Linked DNA regions of Homo sapiens. The protein of the gene in region 1 purifies or fractionates together with the protein of each later gene. This does not show direct contact. Each region holds a gene or a part of one and is shown in the gene's direction. Other genes may lie near its edges. The genes, in order: UNC45B, C1D and CTCFL.

The links.
Region 2: the proteins of UNC45B (region 1) and C1D purify together in Homo sapiens (co-immunoprecipitation; one large-scale study listed by IntAct). This does not show direct contact.
Region 3: the proteins of UNC45B (region 1) and CTCFL purify together in Homo sapiens (affinity purification with a luminescence readout; one large-scale study listed by IntAct). This does not show direct contact.

What each region holds. Positions count from the first base shown.
Region 1 is NC_000017.11:35,171,786-35,175,440, forward strand, and holds part of UNC45B (protein unc-45 homolog B), read left to right. Parts: intron 1-2,456; coding exon 2,457-2,584; intron 2,585-3,655. UniProt on the Homo sapiens protein: Acts as a co-chaperone for HSP90 and is required for proper folding of the myosin motor domain. Plays a role in sarcomere formation during muscle cell development. Is necessary for normal early lens development.
Region 2 is NC_000002.12:68,040,523-68,043,365, reverse strand, and holds the end of C1D (nuclear nucleic acid-binding protein C1D), read left to right. Parts: intron 1-312; coding exon 313-477; 3' UTR 478-2,236; downstream 2,237-2,843. UniProt on the Homo sapiens protein: Plays a role in the recruitment of the RNA exosome complex to pre-rRNA to mediate the 3'-5' end processing of the 5.8S rRNA; this function may include MPHOSPH6.
Region 3 is NC_000020.11:57,504,543-57,508,197, reverse strand, and holds part of CTCFL (transcriptional repressor CTCFL), read left to right. Parts: intron 1-321; coding exon of another isoform or gene 322-333; exon of another isoform or gene 334-354; coding exon of another isoform or gene 355-402; exon of another isoform or gene 403-405; coding exon of another isoform or gene 406-615; exon of another isoform or gene 616-1,192; intron 1,193-3,655. UniProt on the Homo sapiens protein: Testis-specific DNA binding protein responsible for insulator function, nuclear architecture and transcriptional control, which probably acts by recruiting epigenetic chromatin modifiers.

The sequences.
Region 1 (3,655 bases):
AACAATTTGATTTTCTCAGATTTCTGGATTTTGTGACATGGGTGCTAAGTAGGAATCATGAGAGGAGAGGCATGGTCAGCATTAGCCCAGAAGTCACAGATCCCCTGGAACCCTCTCCAACAATTCCCTGCACATGAAGATATGATTTGTGTGTGATTTGTTTAAGAATATATGCAAGATATTGCCAGCCAATAAAATCATTTAGATTTTTTTAATGATCAAAGTAATATAATCATGCTGCAAAACGAGTTAAAATGTGGGGAAAAGAAAATAACCACTCATGATTACGTCATCTCCACATGACTGCTGTTGGCATTTTGATGTTATGTTACCTACCAGAGGCTTTTTTTCTATGTATCTTTTTTCCTTTCACAGTTATAATTAGAATATATTTATCATTTTGTGCCCAATTTTGGAAAAATATGTTTTTCACATTGCCATCTCATTCTCTGAATCATTTTTATTTTATTTATTTATTTTTTGAGACAGAGTCTTGCTCTGTCACCCAGGCTGGAGTGCAGTGGTGAGATCTCGGCTCAATGCAACCTCTGCCTCCCAGGTTCAAGTGATTCTCCTGCCTCAGTCTCTCAAGTAGCTGGAATTCCAGGCATGCACCACCATGCCCGGCTAATTTTGTGTTTTCAGTAGAAACAGGGTTTCACCATATTGGTCAGGCTGGTCTCAAACTCCTGACCTCAAGTGACCCACCCACCTCGGCCTCCTAAAGCGTTGGGAATCCAGGCATGAGCCACCACACCTGGCCTCTGAATCATTTTTGAAAGCTGCATGATGTTTCATCCAGGCAAGGGTGCAGAGCATGTGCTGTGGCTGTGAAGTTCCAGTGTGGCTTCCAGGGCTTGCCCAGGGTTGTCAGCCCCTTCCCCACCACTCCTCACTCTGAGGATTATCTGTAGGGACTCTTTAACCCTGGGTTGACTTTGGGTTTCCAGCAAACCCAATCCATTGTTATGGCGGCTTCATCCACTGTGTCCTTTCCTGCCTATACCCTCTCTCTACCTCCACTCCCACCTCAGCCTTCTCCAAGAAAAACAATATACGCATCATTTAGTCTTTTGGATTATCCGTCTTTTATTTCATTCCTCTGTGAATGAGAGAATCTTTGGGACTGGTTTTCTACGGTATCAGCTCCTCAGGCTCTGTCTTGGGATTAGGTAAGGCAAGGAAGAAGAGAGGAGAGACAATCACACACGACAGCAAGGCGTGCTGTATACCCCTTGGCAGTTGCTTGGGAAGAGGGAATCTGGAGAAGTGTCTTAGTTTCCTATTGTTTCTAGAACACATTGCCACACGCACTGTGGCCTAAAACGCAATTTTTATACTTTTTTTTTTTTTTTTTTTGAGACTGAGTCTCCCTCTGTCGCCCAGGCGGAGTGCAGTGGTGCAATCTTGGCTCACTGCAACCTCCGCCTCTTGGGCTCAAGCAATTCTCCTGCTTCAGCCTCCTGAGTAGCTGGGATTATAGACACGCTCCACCATGCCCAGCTAATTTTTGTATTTTTAGTAGAGACGGGGTTTCGCCATGTTGCCCAGGCTGGTCTCGAACTCCTGGGCTCAAGTGGTCCACCCACCTCAGCCTCCCAAAGTGCTGGAATTACAGGCGGGAGCCACCACGCCTGGCCCGGTTTTAAAAATCTTATAGTTCTGGAGGTCAAGAGTCCTAAAATGAGTCTCACTCGGCTAAAGTCAAGGTGTTAGCAGGGCTGGTTTCTTTGGGAGGCTCTAAGGGAGAATCATTTTGTTGCCTTTTTCAGCTTCTAGAGGCCACCTACATGCTTTGGCTGGTGACCTTGAACCACTCTGACCTCACTTCCATTCCATTGTTACATCTCCTAGTACTAACTCTGATCTTCCTGCCTCCCTCTTATAAAGATCCTGGTGATTATATTGGGCCCACACAGAAATCTAGGCTTACCCCCTCATCTCAAAATCCTTAACTTAATCGTGTCTGCAAAATCCCTTTTGCCATGTAAGGTCCCACGTTCACAGGTTCCAGAGATTAGGCCATGGATTTTTTTTTTTTTTTTTATACAGAGTCTCGCTGTGTCGCCCAGGCTGGAGTGCAGTGGTGCGATCTCGGCTCACTGCAAGCTCTGCCCCCGGGTTCATGCCATTCTCCTGCCTCAGCCTCCTGAGCAGCTGGGACTACAGGTGCCCGCCACCACGCCTGGCTCATTTTTTGTATTTTCAGTAGAGACAGGGTTTTACCGTGTTAGCCAGGATGGTCTTGATCTCCTAACCTCGTGGTCCGCCCGCCTCAGCCTCCCAAAGTGCTGGGATTACAGGCATGAGCCACTGTGCCTGGCCAGGCCATGGACATCTTTGGAGGCCATTATTCAACCAACCCCAAGAATTCAGAAATGCACCATCTTTGGTTCCAATACCGATTGGCCTGGCACCCAGGACCCTCCCACATTGCCATCTTTTCATCTCCTCAGGACAAGAAGGACTTTATAGACATGCGGGTGAAGCGGCTTCTGAAGGCGGGTGTCATCTCTGCCCTGGCTTGCATGGTGAAAGCAGATAGTGCCATCCTCACTGACCAGACCAAGGAGCTGCTGGCCAGGTGGGGCTGCAGTGGGCCAAGGCTTGGAACTAGGGCTGGGGGCCGAGGGTCCTGGAGTGCAGCACACTGGGCAGGGAGATAGAAATGGTGGGGGCCTAAATGAGGAGATAAACTATTGGGAAAGCCTGGAGAAAGGTCTGAGGGGATCAGCTTTGAAAAGTGACATGGGACCAGGGGTGGTGGCTCATGCCTGTAATCCCAGGGCTTTGGGAGGCCCAGGTGGGAGGATTGCTTGAGCCCAGGAATTCAAGACTAGCTTGGGAAACATATTGAGACCCCATCTGTACAAAAAAATTTTAAATTAGCCTGGCACGGTGGTGTGCACCTGTACTGCCAGCTACTTGGGAGGCTGAGGCAGGAGGATCACTTAAGCCCAGGAATTCAGGGCTGCAGTGAATGATGATGGTGCTACTGCACTCCAGCCTGGGTAACAGAGCAAGATCCTGTCTCTATACAAAAGAGAAATAAAGAAAGAGAGAAAGAGAGAGAGAGAGAGAAAGGAAGGGATGGCGGAAGGAAAAAAGGAAGGAGGGAAGGGAAAAGAAGAAGGGAGGAAGGAGAAAGAAAGAAAAAGAAAGAAAGAAAAAGAAAGAGAAAGAAAGAGGAAGAAAGGAGGGAGGGAAGGAAGGAGGGAAGAAAGAAAGGAGGGAAGGAAGGAGAGAGAGGAAAGAAGGAAAGAAAGAAAGGAAAGAAGAAAGAAAGAAAGAAAGAAAGAAAGAGAAAGAAAGAAAAAAGAAAAGAAAGAAAGGGAAAGGAAAGGAAGGAAGGAAGGAGAAGGAAAGAAAGAGGGAAAGAAGGAAAGGAAGGAAGAGAAGTGGTATGTTGGGCAGGTCATCACAGGTGGAAGTTTGTATCAGGAGAAAGGAGGCCACTGTTCCTTCTTGTTACCTTGTTCTCAGAGATTAAAGGCACAGTCTGTGTGCAGCCTGGCCAGGGAGGCAGGCAAGATCACAGCTACAGTCCGATGCAATGGATGCCATGATGTGGGAAGCATAAAGGGCTGATTGGAGCACAAGCAGTGTTCCCCAACCAGCCAGACTGGAGGGGAGGTGGGTGGGCAGCTGGTAAGGC
Region 2 (2,843 bases), on another chromosome or scaffold:
AAATGTATAACCACCTAGAAACTTTCAATTCGATGTTTATTTCTGGAGTAATGTCTTAGTGTGATTCTAACTCTTTGGAAACAGAAGACTTCTGAAATGACTTTTTAACATCTGTCTTTCCCCACCCTCCGACTATGAACTCCAGGCAAGCAGGGAGCGTATTTATCCTATTCATTTGCATTTCCTAGCACCATGCACTTTAATAGGCAATAAATACATATATGTTGAATTTAACCAAGGTGTACAGTATAATAAAATTCAGTGGTGGCGAATAGCTTAGTAAATCTATTGCCTTTGTTTTTTATCTTTAAGGAAAGAATCAGAGTATATATGAACAGAGTCAAGGAAATAACAGACAAGAAAAAGGCTGGCAAGCTGGACAGAGGTGCAGCTTCAAGATTTGTAAAAAATGCCCTCTGGGAACCAAAATCGAAAAATGCATCAAAAGTTGCCAATAAAGGAAAAAGTAAAAGTTAACTTTTTGGTTTTGATGTACACATATTCAAAAAGTACATCTTCCCCCCCCCCCCCCCCCCCGCAAAATAATTCTGTGGCAGGGCAAGGTTTAAATGTGTTTCTTATTAATATGTAAATTCACAGTAAATATGTAAAGCTAAATACTTTCCTCTCCAAAGATCATTATCTTTATTGATTAGCACTGAGGATTTTAACATTGTGATATATTATATATTTATAATTTACCATCTCTTGATGAGACTCTTATTTCTTTATATAGGTCAGTCTTGCAAGTACCATTTTATAAGCAGCTGTGAAATTTAAGTGAAATGTTCTTTGTAAACATTTGTACTATTTTAAATGAATAATGACCTTATGAAGTATGCTATCTGTAGGCTGAAATTATAGGTACATCTGTTTTCACTATATGATATTAAGAAAGCGTGAAATGACTTAAATGTTCATTTTTTTCTGTATAGATACTTTATCATGTTTTCATGATTTTAGGAATTACTGCTTTGTTGATATTCAAAGTGTGAAACTAAAACTTTATGGTTGTACTTTAATTCTTGGCATGTTGCCTCTATGTCCCATTTAAAATAAAATACATTCTCATTAACTTTAGATGGGAAATAAGGTTGTATGTTGATGGATGAATTTTGGCATGATGACTGTACTCTCAATAAAGGCTGAAAATGTTGTATAACTGACCTGTGTATTTTTATCTTTTGAGTAAATTTGCCTTCCAAATTAGGAAGATAGGTTTTAGAAGTCATCACAAATAGAGAAATTCTTGAGTTTTTGTTCCTGATGCATGGTGTCCACAGTTCTTTTCATCTCATTTTTTTTCAGATTTTTTTTATTTCATGTTTTTGAGGCTGTATCAAGTACATACAAGTGTTTTGGAACAACTTCTTAAGTTACCTAATGCCACTTAAGCAGATGAGAAGTCCAAAGGAGATTACACTGTGTTTGTATTGTGGTTTATTTTTCTGGAATATTAGTTACAGAGAGTACTACATAGTAAACCTTTTTTTAAATGTCTAAGCCCATGAATTTTAATTATATGCCCTTAATGCTTTCAGTGTTTGAATCCATATCATTATGTGTAGGAATGCCAAGTATAGTAAAGTACTTTAATTTTTGAAAAAGGAGTTGTTAAAATTTTCTGTGTGATTAATTCTCCATAAGTAACCTTGAATAAATGGATTTCTTGATTTATGATAGCAGATATTGGAAATGGTCTTAAAATGTAATGGATTTTGTAAAGCATGTTGAACTCTTTCTATGACACATGAAGAGGAAGTCACTGATAGACGCAGAAGGTCTTTTCTGTCTCTGATGTCAGTTTTTGAAGTGGAAGAACATTAGTGAACATTTATAGTTATTTTACTCCTTTTTTTGCCTTTGTCTCCAAATTTCTAGCTATTTTTAAAAATAACCTCTTCATGAGAGAAATGTGTTACTGTTAAGATCAAGTGTAGTGTACCTGTCTTTGTGTTATTTATTGCAAAGAAATTTATTTGGATTTCTGTATATTTTCTAATTTCATAAAAGAAAAACAGCTTAAATGAAAAATGTTATACAATTGCAGAAAATCATTATTGGTTTTAGCTAAGTTATTGGTTTATGAAAGTGCACCTCTACGTTCTGTTAAATTGTGTAACTTTTAAGTGAGTAATTCTTTCATTATTAGGTAGAAATAAAAGTTTGAGTATATTCCATTTTATTATGTATAATTTTAAATACTTAGCACGTAATAAGGAGCTGAATGGCTGTAGTGCATTGGGTTGCTTATTTGCTTGTTGTTTGTTTATTCTTTTGACAAATATACTTAATGACATTTATATTGCCAGATACAGTGCTAGGTGCAACGTTCCAAAGACGATAACTACGGCCTTTATCCTATCTTTATAAGGTGTTAAGAAAAAAATAGTCTTTTTATTCAATTCAGTTTCTCAGAGTTATGGGAAAATTTATGACAAATTGTGCTCATTAACCTTATTCAGAACCATAAAGGGTGATGTGTGTGGTTGATCTATTTGACTATGGTGCAGTTCTTGTTAAAATAGTTTGTTCCACATGATAGTCTGCTCTAAGTTTAGATGTTAATTACATCTTTTATTAATCTCTTTGGGAATTAACAAGTTGGAGAAGTTGCATCTATAGATATTTTTAAGATTAGAATTATAGTCTATTAATCTTGTACTAAATAATGAGATCTTGCATTTTAATATTATTTTAAGTACAAATTTTTTCTTGTTCATAGTTGTAAGGTGGGAAATCCTTTTAGTAAAACAGAATATGTTGAGTGAAAAATTGAAGCTTGAATTATGTTACATTCCTGGAATTAGGAAGTTATGTCAGGTTGATTAGTTTTAAGATAC
Region 3 (3,655 bases), on another chromosome or scaffold:
TGAGAGGCCAAGGTGGGAGGATTACTTGAGGCCAGGAGTTTGAGATCAGCCTGGGCAACACAGGGAGACCCCCATCCCTCCAAAAAAATTAGCTGGTTGTGGTGGTGCACCCCTGTAGGCCTAGCTGCTCAGGAGGCTGAGACAGGAGGACCACTTGAGCCCAGGAGTTGGAGGCTACAGTGAGTCACGATCGCACCACTGCACTCTGGCCTCAAAGACAGAGTGAGACCCTGTCTCTAAAATAACTTTTTTAATTAAAAAAAAAAGAATAGTGCTGTTGGTACTGGACTAAGCAATACATTTATGGTTTTATTCTTTTAGGTGTTGTATTAGTTATCTATTTCTGTATGACAGATTACCTCAAAATGGAGTGGCTTAAAACCACAAACATTTATCACCTGACAGATTCTCTGGGTTGGGAACTCGGAAGTGGCTGAACTGGGTGGTCCTGGCTCAGGGCCACTCCTGAGGCTGCAGTCAGGATGTCCGCCAGGGCTGCATCATCCGAAGGCTGGACTGGGGCCAGAGGATCCACTTCCAGGACAGCTCCGCCACACAACTGCTGGCACCGGCCTCAGTTCCTTGCTACAGGGACCTCTCTGCAGGGCTGCTTGAGTGTCCTCCTGACTCAGAGCAAGTGAGAGAGTGCAAGTAGGAAGCCATGGTGCCTTTTGCAGTCTAGTCCTAAAAGCGGCACAACAGCCAGCTGTGGGGGCTCACACCTGTAATCCCAGTACTTCGGGAGGCCAAGGCAGGTGGATAACTTGAGGCCAGGAGCTCAAGACCAGCCTGGCCAACATGGTGAAACCCTGTCTCTACTTTAAAAAAAAAAAAAGAAAATAGCTAGGCGTGGTAGTGCACGCTTGTAATCCCAGCTACTTGGGTGGTTGGGACGGGAGGATCACTTGAACCCAGGAGACAGAGGTTGCAGTGAGCTGAGATTGTGCCACTGGCCTCCAGCCTGGGCGACAGAGCAAGACTCTGTCTCAAAAAAAAAAAAAAAGTGGCACATTCTAGTCACAAGAAATGAACCATGAAGTCCCACCCACACTCGAGTGGGGAATGAAGTTTCTTTTGAAAGGAACAGCATCAAAGAATTTCAGGACATTTAAAAACCACTGCACATGGCTAGCTAGATCCTTGGACCATGTAGGCTTCAGCCTAACTTTATAAAAGTTTTATAAAAGTTGAATTTCCTGAAGTTGACTATTTTTTTAAAAATATTTCTTCTTAAAACAGTAGTGTAGTTGTGTTTTTCTGAGTAGCACAGTGGGATAGTTCTGGAATGTCAACCCTATTAGTTTAAAATTTCAAATAAAAGCTGTGGCAGTGCTCCCAAAACACCATTGCTCATGCAAAAATTGTGAAGAGTTAAAATTAACGAGTAGAATTCTAAAGAGAAAAAAACTGCTCTTTGGTGCAAGAAATAAAAATGTAGAGAAAAGAACAAGTCTGCCTCATGCAGTCCCTCAGAACATAAAATTTTTGAAATTCCGATTCAAGAAAGCATATTTGGACTTGTGTCTAAAATATAAAAAGAACTCTTATAACTCAGTAAATAGACAGATACCCAATGAAAAACAGGTAAAGTATCTAGGCCAGGCGCGGTGGTTCACACCTGTAATCCCAGCACTTTGGGAGGCAGAGGCAGGTGGATCACAAGGTCAGCAGTTCAAGACCAGCCTGGCCAAAATGATGAAACCCCATCTCTACTACAAATACAAAAATTAGCTGGGCATGGTGGCACATGCCTGTAATCCTAGCTGCTCAGGAGGCTGAGGCAGGAGAATTGCTTGAACCCAGGAGGTGGAGGTTGCAGTGAGCTGAGACTGTGCCACTACAGTCCAGCCTGGGCAACAGAGCGAGACTGTCTCAGGAAAAAAACAAAACAAAACAGTTAAAGTATCTAAATAGACCTTTCTCCAAAGAAGACATACAGGTGGCCAGTAAGCGTAGCGTCATTAATCACCAGGGCAACGCAAATCAGTTTCTGCCACGACTTCTTGAGTCTGCCCTTGTGTCATGGAAGCAGCTGTGGATGCAGTGTGTAAATGAATAGACATGGCTGTGTTCCAGTAAAACTTGCTTTCACAAACAGTTGGCAGCCAGATTTGACCCACTGGTTGTCGTTTGCCAACCCCAGTGTCTAAGCATAAAATGGAAGAAGTTTAAACAACCTGTTCCATCACCCCCATTATGTGTAAATTCTTCCTTCTTCCATCATAAACGCAGACAGTCCTGTTAAGCACAGTGGGAAAGTCAAAATGGGAATCAGGCGGGATGTTTCGCATAATTTGCAAATTTCAACACCTGTTGCCAGTTTTTTTACTTTTGCCTAGGACCTTTTCAAAAAGTGAAAATTTTCTGACTTAAGATTATCCTGAGTGTTTGTTAGATGAGACTATGTCACGAGTAGGCTTGACTAGGGGAAGTCTTTGGCTTTTATTCCTGAATGTTGTATACAGTTTCATAACTGCCACCCATGACCTCTGCTCAGTAGCTTCAAGAGAGTAGCTAACAGAAAAGTAAAATCTTTATGGTATGTAGTTGATGGTTATGAAATTGACTGATGTATTGAATTTTTGGTTCAACATCAGTCTTCACTTTAGAGAGTAGAAACATTCTAGAAAAATAAATTTTAAGGCCGGGCGCGGTGGCTCACGCCTGTAATCCCAGCATTTTGGGAGGCCGAGGCGGGCGGATCACGAGGTCAGGAGATCGAGACCATCCTGGCTAACATGGTGAAACCCCATCTCTACTGAAAAATACAAAAAATTAGCCGGGCGTGGTGGCACATGCCTGTAGTCCCAGCTACTCGGGAGGCTGAGGCAGGAGAATGGCATGAACCCGGGAGGCGGAGCTTGCAGTGAGCAGAGATCGTGCCACTGCACTCCAGCCTAGACGAAAGAGCAAGACTCCGTCTCAAAAAATAAATAAATAAATAAATAAATTTTGTCTTCTCATTGATTTCTATTATTAAAAAAAAATACTTAAAGCAAGCTAGCTTTTGGCTAGAGCTAAGCACAACAGAAAGGGTCACCTTTAAAAAGTCATCATTTTTGCACAAGATTATCAAAGGTGCATGCTACCCACAGTTTTCCCAAAGGCCATCTCTTTAACTGTGCATTTTTCAGTGCCTTTGGGGAAGCCGACTCTTGTTATAGAACCAAACTGGGGTCTGCTTGCCTGGTGCAGTAAGACCAGATATCCACACCACAGTTTGCAGCAGGAGTTTATTTGCAGGGTGCCAAGGAAGCAGAAGCTACAGACAAAATTATAAATCAGCGCATGGAGGATACCTTGCCCTAAAAGGGCAGGATATCTTGCAGCAAGGGCTTACAGGTTGTAGGTAGATTCAGAGACTGGTTTGCAATTGGTTAAGGAAGAGAAGTTTTGTTTAAAATTTTGAGAAAAGAGTATTAGCTCTGGTTCACGAGGCATGACCTCCTCTAGGCCTCTCAGGAGGAAATTAAGAACAAAATTAGAACAAATTTAGCAGTGGTCAGATTTCAGCCCCCAGGTCCTCCTTATCTTAGGTCTCCCTGCCGGTGGACCTGTTTGGTAAAGAGCCAGGTTTCTAAAAAACAACTCAGGGACGGATGTTAGGATGTTATCTTGGCCAGTGCGGTGGCTCACGCCTGTAATCTCAGCACTT